Regions from separate parts of the Homo sapiens genome. Here region 1 is linked to region 2. The links come from fine-mapping of genetic effects on gene expression. A gene starts in region 2. The other region holds a variant in brackets. All regions are shown on one strand. Distances are between the middles of the regions.

The links. PIP is the estimated chance that this variant, and not a neighbour inherited with it, causes the effect.
Region 1: its variant is fine-mapped to the expression of BIN1 in Th2 cells (Schmiedel 2018, PIP 0.95).

The regions. Positions count from the first base shown.
Region 1 is chr2:127,071,944-127,076,943 of GRCh38, forward strand. It overlaps BIN1 (bridging integrator 1), which reads right to left. Exons shown (of 19, transcript NM_139343.3): 2 at 4,683-4,763. Among named protein-coding and RNA genes, the nearest start is that of BIN1, 33 kb to the right of the region's middle. The variant A/G (reference allele first, on the strand shown) is at 2,122.
Region 2 is chr2:127,104,375-127,109,797 of GRCh38, forward strand. It overlaps BIN1 (bridging integrator 1), which reads right to left and starts at 2,780. Exons shown (of 19, transcript NM_139343.3): 1 at 2,486-2,780. The coding sequence starts at 2,569. LOC105373605 (a long non-coding RNA gene) reads left to right here and starts at 2,771. Exons shown (of 4, transcript XR_923311.4): 1 at 2,771-3,441. RefSeq lists silencers at 2,628-2,837, 2,719-3,013, 2,848-2,907.

The DNA.
Region 1 (5,000 bases), 33 kb before region 2:
GCAGAGAGGGGACTCGGGAGAGCGGCAGTGGCTGAGGCTGACCTTCGTAGTAGAAGGGCACCCTCCTGGCCTCCCCTGCCTGCTGCCAGCCCAAGCCTCAGGGACACCCATGTTCCAGTCGCCTCCTGCCCTGAAGGAGGGGCAGCTGGCCATGGTCCCAGGAGACCCAGCATGCCTGCAGCGCTCCAGTCTGGCCAGCTTCATGCTTGCGCAAGAGCCGGAAGGTGGGCCCCATCCATTCAGGTCCACCTCCAGGTGAAGGCCAGCAGGGACCCGGCCACATCCACAGGCTCACCCCCAGCACCCTGAAACCCTCTTCTGTCTCCCCACTACAGGCCTCTCCCTGTCCTTAGCCGGGGCTGCTCTTCCTGCCCTGGTGCCCTAGGGGCCAGCACCTTCCAGGCAGTCTTCTCAACACCACTGTCCCACCTGACAGCAAAGAAGCGGACAGAGGGTCAGCGACCGGCCCAGTCACACAGAGACTCGGAGAGCCCATGAGACCCTCCAAGCCTGGGCACGCAGCCCGCAGGGTGTTTTGTGGGTAATGGGTAGTGATGCGGCCCTGAGAACCCACAGATCTGCCTATTATGATGAATGCTTCCGTGTGACAGTAGAGACATCCACAGGGGGAGCTTCAGAGCAGCACATAAGATGTATAATTTAAAGAGAGCATGTGTGAAAAAAAAAAAAATCTCTAAAATTCCTTTAATCCCCCATAGAGTAGGGTGTATAACACTGGCTAATCATCATCTTTACAAACATCCAAGTCCAAGGCCCACCGATGTGAGACTGAGTGAAGAAACAGAAGACTGCTCCACGGACACTGAGACCTCCCTGGAATTCCATCAGGGGGTCGGATGGAGACCCCGCGGGGCCGGGGAATGAGGAAGGGTCCACCTCACTCCTGACACAGCCACCCTAAGTCTTCACAATTAAAGGCTTTGTTGGTCGAGACGAGGATTAAAGTGTGTTCATGATGGGATGCTATCGTGTCCTCTGATGTCACAGAATCTTCCAGATCCAGCTTCTCTCCCTGCCAGGCCTCCACCATCCCAGCCACACCTCTCACGCCGTCCCCACCTCCCCCCCACAGCAGGGGTCCCCATGGGGTGGGTCGTTGTGCTCCCCCGGGCTTCAGGCCGTACCAGGGCTCCTTGTGTTTCCCAAACAACGCTGGGCTGTGCGCCGGCACGTGGCACGCAGATGTGCAAGGGGCCGGCCAGAGCACTGCCTCCCTGTGCCCACTGCAGCTGGCTTCCTAAGCTCCTCATCAGTCCCCAGGGTAGACACAGCCCTCCCCCGACGGAGGCCCCAGCCAGCTACCCTCCGCAGGGCAGCGTCCAGGCCAGTACAGAGCAGTGTGTGTTTGCTTCCAAGTGGCTCCCTCAGCCCCTAAACAGGGATCTGAGAAAGAATTCTCTGGAGGTCCCAGAGTTCACAGAGCCCAGCTGGGGGAAGATAAGATTCGGGAGCCACTGCCCACCTCAGCCTGTGTCCCAGCTACAGGACTTGGGGGAGTCAGGAAGGTCCTGGAGCAGCTCCAGCGCGGCTGGGCTCAGCCAGCATCCCCAAGCCCTCGCTGCACCTCCCTGGACATCAGTCCCCACAGGTGGCCTGAGCACCCAAGTCCCTGTGCTCCCAGTGGGTCTAGGGGGCAGGGACGGCCCTCCTACGTGGACCCCCTCTGGCACCCCTCAGCCATCAATTCGGGGGGCGACCTTCACTCAATAGTCAGGGATGCCCATTTTGAGCAAAACCTTGGGTGGGCCATGGGGACAAGAAGGAATCAGACTTGCCCCACCTCAGTGACAGACAAACAGCAATGACAGCCCTGCAGCCTGGAAAGCTACAGACGGACCCTAGGAAGAAGAGCTGGGATGCCCTGGAGACCCAGGATGGCTTCCAGAAGGGCCTGTGCCAGGTGTGCAGTACTCTGGGGGAGGGGCAAGCAGGCCCCCATGGGCTCTCAGAGCAGGGGCAGAAGGCAGCGATGCTACTGTGACCAGCGCCAGGTGGGCCCAGGAGGGGCTGTGCACCTGGGTCCTTGGAGAGCAGGTGACAGCAGGCTGATCTACACCCTCTCCTAGGGCCCCCCACCCCATAAGAAGGGGTGGGAGGTTC[A/G]CTTCTTTAAAGACTAAATCACCTGCCATCCTTGTCCCTTGTAGTGCTGGGCCCACTAGGCTTGGGGCTCACAGAATCAGAGGCAAGAAAAAGCTCCACCTCCAGGCTTCCCACGCCCCATTCTCTCTCTCCTTTCCCAGGGCCCCCAAGCCCACTGCAGCCTCCTGAATTCACTCCCCCAACAACAGTGACCTTCACCCCATTCCTTCCTGGTCCCCACACCCTGCCATCCCCACACACCAATCAAATCCAGAACTGGCTGCCTTAGCCCCAGCCTTGAACAAGACCTTAAAACCACCACCCCAACTACCAGCCCTGGCCCCTGAAAAGCCAGCCACCCCACCAAACCTGAGCCCGGGGGCAGACAGAGGCCCAGCTCAGGACTGCTCCACACCCACAGCCCAGCAGCCACCTGGCAGCCCGCAGCACTGGCTATCTTTAGCCCTGGACTCTCTGCCCAACCCCTCTGTCCAAGGAGCAGTGAGTGACTGTTTGCCCAGAGTCAGAGACCCAGAGAGGATGACTCTGAGGGACAGTGGAGACAGCAACACTGTGGTTTCAGCCCTGGGGCCAGGCCACACAGAGTCTCAGCTCCCAACTGTGCTTCCCTCACTCTGCCAAAGCTCAGCCTGTTTTTTGTTTGTTTGTTTGTTTTGAGACCGGAGTCTTGCTCTGTAGCCCAGGCTGGAGTCCAGTGGCATGATCTCGGCCCACCGCAACCTCTGCCTCCCAGGTTCAAGAGATTCTTCTGCCCCAGCCTCCCGAGTAGCTAGGACTACAGGCACACACCACCACGCCTGGCTAATTTTTGTATTTTTAGTAGAGGCGGGGTTTCACCATATTGGCCAGGCTGGTCTCAAACTCCTGACCTCATGATCTGCCTGCCTTGGCCCCCCAAAGTGCTGGGATTACAGGCGTGAGCTACAGTGCCCGGCCAGCTCAGCCTGTTCTAAGGGGCCCCCACCACCTCCACCCCTAACCTGTCTCCCCAGCCTAGCCAGCTGCCCTCAGGACAAGGGATCAGCTCCAGAGAGGAAACTCGATAGTGAACCAAAGGCCACAGAGCCTGGATTTCAATCCCCAACACCCACACCAGCTACATAGCCTTGGAAGATGTGCTTAACTTCTCTGAGCCTCAAGTGCCTCATCTGCAAAATGAGAATATCAGCCCCATCTCAAGGATTGCATAGATCTCTGTCAAACACAGCAGCTCTGGCCCATGGCCACAGCAACTCCCTAAAGGTCCTTCAGAGCAACCCACAGCCTGATGAAGCCAGCTGAGTAGGGACATGCCCTGGGGCTTCCCAGAGATGGAATCAGAACCTAAGACCAGGTTTCTTGTTCAAGCCTCTATTCTGCAGGTGAGGAAACTGAGGCCCAAGAAGCTCTGGGAAGGAATTGCCCAGAGCCACAGAGGCAGTAGATATCCCTGCCACAGGGTCTACCTGGGCCTTGAAACTCCTCCCATAACTGGCCTAAAGGACAATCAGCTAAGGGGGCTCCCCAATCCCTGTCCAGGGAAGCCTGTCAGGCTGAGCCCCTCTGGCAAGCCAAGGCCAACTTGGCCCTGGGGCCTCTCCCCTCTGCTCCCAGCCCTCTCCCAGAATGCTCCCAGCCCTCCCAGCTGCTCCCAGCCCTCTCCCAGAATGCTCCCCGGCCCTCTCCCAGAATGCTCCCAGCCCTCCCAGCTGCCCCCCACCACCCTCTCCCAGAATGCTCCCGGCCCTCCCAGCTGCCCCCCCCACCGCCCTCTCCCAGAATGCTCCCCGGCCCTCTCCCAGAATGCTCCCAGTTGTTCCCTGGCCCTCTCCCAGAATGCTCCCAGCCCTCCCAGCTGCCCCCAACCGCCCTCTCCCAGAATGCTCCCAGCCCTCCCAGTTGCTCCTGGTCCTGTCCCAGAATGCTCCCAGCTCTCCCAGCTGCTCCCCAGCCCTCTCCCAAATGCTCCCGGCCCTCTCCCAGCTACTCCCGGCCCTCGCAGCTGCTCCCAGTCCTCTCCCAGCTACTCCCAGGCCCTCCCAGCTGCTCCCCAGCCCTCCCAGCTGCCCTCAGCCCTCTCTCAAATGCTCCCAGGCCAATTGGAGATGGCTGCGGATGCCTCCCCACAGCCCAGCCTTGAGCCTGCCACACAGCCAGGCACACACCATGCTCAGCAGATGCCCAAATCAAACCCAGCCTGCTCCGCCCCCATGCTAACCGCTGCAGATGCCACTCTCCTGGCAAGAAGCTTCTATAGCTCCCACTTGCCCCTGACATGCAAAGTTTCCCCAAGTCTGGCCACAATCTATTGCCTGCTCCTATCCCACCCTCCCCCTCCCCCTCCCCCAACTACCGTTTCTATGTCTCCTACCAAGAACCTAAAGCATACATACCCCATCCCTCTTCCTTCCCAGCATGCATTGCCAGTGCTCCCTCCTCTAGGAAGTCTTACATGATCTTGTCAGCCCACACTGATTACCCTCCTCCAAGCTCTCGTACTCCACAAATTCAGCTCGTGCCATTTTTCACCTGGCAGCCGAATTTTCACAAACTCCCTAAGGCCAAGGGCCACCCACACTCACCAGCTGCTTGTTGAAATTCTGGACGCACTGCTCAAACTGCTCATCCTTGGTCTCATCTGCCTTCCCCAGCTTCTGGAGAACCTGCCGAAGCCAAGAGAGAAGGGGAGAGTGTTACCTTGGAAAGGAGAGTGGTCAAACCAAGAGTGCTCAGTCACCAACAGCACAGACCAGGGGCTGGGAAGTCTCTAGCCAACATCACCCAGCCCAGGGTGCCCACCCAGGGCTGCAATCCCAGGGCATGGCTGGGTCCATCAGGTTTTCAGGCCTCCCCACCCTCTACCCAGGGCTCGACAATAGGCCAAAAATGGAGCTTAGGAC
Region 2 (5,423 bases):
TGCAGGCTGCCCTTGACCACACTGTCACCCTCACAGTCTGGATGTTTGTTTGGGCTGGAAGTGGATGTGGGAAGGCCGGGGGTGAAGGGTGGATGCAAGATACGGGCCCTTCTTCCTACGCCAGGACGCCAGGACTCTCCCAGCCTCCCAGCACAGCTCCTGCCATCCTTGCTCAGGAAACGCCTTCCTGTAGCCACAGGGAAACTGGAATTGCCCTATTACCCACTGATTTCACCAAGGCAAGGTAGGTATAGTGGTGGGGCTGCCTGTAAGAGACTAGGATTCCAGTTTCATTGACAGTGGGAGTTAGAGGCGGCACTGATCACCAACAGAAGACACTGAGGATGACCCTCCAATGATGGCACAGACTCTACAGGAAGGCACACAGCAGAGGCTGCTGTGGGTTGAGGCATGGGGCTTCCTGCGAGCAGGGCCTGCAACCCAAAGGGAGGGGAAGGCTACTTTCAGAGACCTGGCCTGGATGCCTGTCATGATGGTCATGCTGCCTTGGTTTCTGATGGGGGGAGGGTCCCTAACTAGTCTCCGGCAGGCAGAGAGCAGCTGGAACACTAAACAACTCCAGTCCCAGGAAGCCCGGCATGGGCAAGGTCAGCTGTTGGCCAAGACCAGCATGCCTAGCTGACCAACTGTCAGCCAACTGCCCGTGGCCACAGAACAGGGGCTCAAGAGAGAGGGATGGTGTCTCAGGAGCTCAGTGATACATCACCACCTCCTTGGAGGGGACACAGCCCTTGCCTACTGCCCCGAGAATGACATCAAAGATGCTGCTGCAGAGAAAAGACAACCAGGGCAAAGGAGACACACCAAGAGCCTTGGGGAGCCAGGAAGGGGTGGGACACCAGTGGGAAGGGGGCAGGGAACACAGCTCAGCTAACCTCCCTTCCCATTCATCTCCCTGGCCCTTTAGGGAAGGAAGCAGGCTCTGGCCCAGGGCTGCCTGCTCCAGGCACACAGATGGATTACCCAGTCATGGCAGCCCGGAGCAGGGGTGGCTGCATCTGTGCTGCCACCCCCCCACCCCACAACCTGAAGTCTTCCCAGCCCCCAGCCAGCTATTCCTGGGGCTTTAATCCCTCCTCCTCCTCCTCCTCCTCCTCCTCCTCCTCCTTCCCTGGGGTGGGGGGTTGGGGAGCTGGGTCTGGGCAAACCTGGACTTGGCTGAGGGCCCTTCCTTCAATGCACACCCACCCACCTCCTTAGCCAGGAAACACAGGGATGAGCAGTAGGACTCTGAGGGAGGTATGGGGAAGCTCTAGGCGCCCCCCTCTCCCCCATCCCCCAGCAATCACGTGGTTGCATCCTTAGGGAGCCCGCGGGTCTCAGAAGCAAAAGTCATTGTTTATAAACAGCCACCAGGCCTGGCAGGGGAAGGCCGGCCTGTCCCTGCGCCTCCACCCGGCGGCCGCGCAGCGGGTGGGAGAGGGGGCAGGCCTGGCCGCGGGGCACTGGGGGGCCACCCTGGCAGAAACACAGATTCTGCAATCTCAGATTTCAGAGTTGGAGTCGTCAGGGGAAGTGGCGTCAGCAGCTGGCGTGATCCAATTCAATAAACCAGAGGTGGCTTGGGATAGACAACTGACCGGGTGCAGACCCCCGCCCCTCAATCTCTGCATTTCCTGCACGCTCTGGGCACCCTGGGAGGCCCCGGCTCCATCCCCCATTCCAGCTCTCCGCGAGGAGGGGTCGGGTTTCCTGTGGCGCCTTCCACGCGCCTCCTCCAGGCCAGCTCCCCACCCGGCCGTGGGCTCCCAAAGCCAGTGCCGCCACCCGCTCCCCGGCCGCCGGAAACGCTAAGCCCCTGCTGGGGCGAGGGCACCTCCTTGCGGGGTGCGTAGCCCTGGGCTCCCGGTGGGGCCGGGCTGGGCGGGAGCTTCCAGGCCGCAGGCACCTCTCGGGAAAGGAAACCCAATCCCTCCTTCGGCCCACGGAGAACGAAAGTGGAGAAGCAGTGGGAAGGAAGGAACTGTGGGTGCCGGTTCGAGAAGCAGCCTTGGGAGTCCGGGGGAATAGTGTCCCCAGGGGCAGAGGGACATACTCCCTCTCGCCCCGAGCGCCGGCCCAGCCTAGGTTGCCTGCATGGGCCTGGAGAGCTGAGGGTCACCACCTGGCCTCCCAGCCTCCCGGCCCTTGGCCTCCAAAGCGGGGTAGCCTGGAGCGCGCGCCTGAGAAGAGCCTGGAGCAGGGCCGGCCACTGCTGTGCAGCCGAGCCACGAAGGTGCAAAGCGGGGCCCTGTCCTGCCCCGGCCGGGTGTGGGGAGACAGAGGACGCAAACCTAAGAGGGCACCCAGAGCGCCGGGGAACGCAGCCTGGGGACCTCGAAGCCCCTCGAAAGCGCTCCTCTAGAGGTGACAGCACCAGATCCTGGCGAAGGACCAGGCCCCGGGGTCGGAGGATAGGGGGACAGGTGGCCGGGGCTCCGCGGCGGCTGGGACTCCGCGGCTGCTGGGGCTCCGGCTCGCTCACCTTCTCCTGCGCGCGGGTGAGCTTCTTCTGCACGTTGCTGGCGATCTTTCCCGCCGTCACCCCTTTACTGCCCATCTCTGCCATCGCGGCGCAGGCCTCGCCCGGTGGCAGGGGCCGCTCTCGCGCGGGGAGATCTTGCGCGCCGCGCTCCCAGCCCCCAGCCCCGGCCGCGCGTCCAGACCGGCTGCCGCTCCACGCCGCGCACCCGACAGCGGAGCCAACTGACGGAGGCGGAGCGTGCGCCGGACGGGCGAGCGAGCCAGCGAGCTAGCCAGCGAGCGACGCGGGGACAGAGGGAGGGAGAGGGGAGGGGCCGGGCCTCAGGCCGCGGTCGGCGCCCCCCGCCCGCCCCCTCCGGACAATAAGCTGCCTTTTAAAGGGCCACTCCGGGCGCCGGCACCGCCAGGTCCGCGAGGAGGGAGGGGCGCGCGCGGCGCTGGGGCTGCGGCGAGCGGGACTCCCCTGACGCTCCAGCTGCACCGCCCCGGGGCGGGGACTAATCCGCCGGCCTGGCGTCTTGGTCTTCCCCGCAAGCAGTAATCTCCTGCAACCCAGGAAAGGAGACTAGGTGGAGGAGAGGAGTGCTTTCGAAATCAAAGAGAAAGTGCGGCGAAGGGGGCGCGGCCCTGAACAGAGGAGCCGCGGCTGCTGGGAGAACGCGCCCGGAGCCCCCTCCTTTTCCAGGGGCTCACCTCCCGCCCGGTGCCCGGTGCCCGGTGCCCGACGCTCCGCCTCCTCCCAGCCTTCGGCCCTCGGGTTTTCGCCCGGATACCCTAGGCGCCTCCGGGACATCTCCACATCTTTGCCTACGGCGCCTAGCCCAGTACCAACCGGTGCTTGGTCTTCCCGTTCGCTAAAAATTTATTATAATAACAACAACCTAGCATTACTGAGTGCTTACTGTGTACTAAGTGACTTGACAGGCATTATTTCATTCGGTCTCCGTGGCCCTAGAGGTAGGTGCTATTACTGTTCCTACTTTACAACCAACGCGCCGGGATCGAGGAACGAGATCTCTGCCTCTGTCTCCCAGGTGCTCCACCACCATACGCCGGGTTGTCTCCTACCCCCAGCAGGAAGGAATGATTAGTGATCATTATTCCTGGAGAAGATAAGGTTATTGCTAACCAGCTTTGCCAATAGACCAATGACACTTCTTTTAAGTTAATAAATACGTATTGAGTCTGCTGATACCCACCCCCATTCAGCCCTAAAACATGTCAGGGGCTACAGCACTTTGCTGCCCCTGGAAATTTCTAAAGAACTGTTGATTGAGTTGAGCAGAGAGATAGGTCCCGCTGAAGAGGCCTAGACGTGTCTGGTGCACACACAGGAGCCAGGGCTATGGCCTGCAGGACCCGCAGCGGTCAGAGGAGCAGAGCTGGCCAGGGACAGAGGTCCCTGAGAGGCTTCCTGGAGGAACAGGAAGGGCTCTTGCAGACCACAAACCAAGCAGTTTGTACAAATGGAGAAATCGAGTCCCAGGAATGAGAGGTTCAGCCTGGGTTCACACAGGCCATTCCCTCTTCCCTGGAAGGCCCTCCTGCTCTTTCTCCGGCTACTCGGGGTTCTTCCACCACCGCTCAGTGCTGCCCCATGGCCCAGTGTGTTCGTCTGTCCTCTTCCGGGCCTATTATCATGATGTCCCTCGGTATCCCCCAGGGGACTGGTTCCAGCACATCCGTGGATACCAAAATCCAGGGATGCTCAAGTCCCTCATATGAATTGACACAGTATCTGCATATAGCGTACACAAATCCTCCAAAATACTTTAAATTATCTCTAGATTCTTGTAATAGCTAATACAATTTAAATACTATGTAAATAGTTGTTAACGCTGTATTTTTTATTTATTTATTTATTTATTTTTAGACAGAGTCTCACTCTGTCGCCAGTCTGGGGTGCAGTGGCGCAATCTGGGCTCACTGCAACCTCTGCCTCCCGGGTTCAAGTGATTCTCCTGCCTCAGCCCCCCGAGCAGCTGGGACTACAGGCACGTGCCACCATGCCCAGCTAATTTTTGTATTTTTAGTAGAGACGGAGTTTCACCATGTTGGCCAAGATGGTCTCCATCTCCTGACCTCGTGATCCTCCCGCCTTGGCCTCCCAAAGTGCTGGGATTATAGGTGTGAGCCACCGTGCCCGGCCTTGTTTTTTATTTATATTATTTTATTGTTGTAGTCTTACTTTTTATTGTATTTTTCCAAATATTTTCAGTCCACAGTTGGTTGGATCCATGGATGCCCAACCCACAGATGCAGAGGGCTGACTGTATTCTTATTCTGCAGGAAGACAGACTGAGGCGCCGCTGATGTAGGTCACACAGACAGCAAATGATAAGCAGAGATTCTGCATCAAGCCTTCCTGCACCAATGCCCTCAAAAGCACCAAGCGCTGCATGAGTGAAAAGCATCTGTCAAAATTATTATAAACTCATGCCCGATTTGTGAGTCACAAAAGCAAAACCTACACAGTCTGGGCTTCTAAAGCAGCTTCCTCCTAAAAGCTCAACATGCTTTCAGCTCATGATCTCCTTCCTCCTCATTTTCTGTTGGTCGTTTTTCTAACCATTCTCTAAAAGTGATTTCTTCCAACACTCCTCTGAGGAAAGGAGGAAATGAGCAAAGTCAAATTGCATTACAGTCAGCCCCCAGGGAACAGTGGGAGATTCTGCTTCACTGGACTCTGGTGTTTCTAAATATCGCTTGACAGAAAAATTGGAAGCAACGGAAGTGTTCATTAGAGGGATGGGGTCAGCTGTGACAGCACAGCCACAGGAGGGGCCATTGGGAATCATTTAAAACAACCATTACCGAGACTACGTAGCAACAAGAAAATAATGCTTAGGGCATAATTATGAAGGAAAGGAAAAGATAGGAAATTGTACTTGCAACCATATAAAAATAAATTAAAATAAATTAAAAGCTCATGATCAATG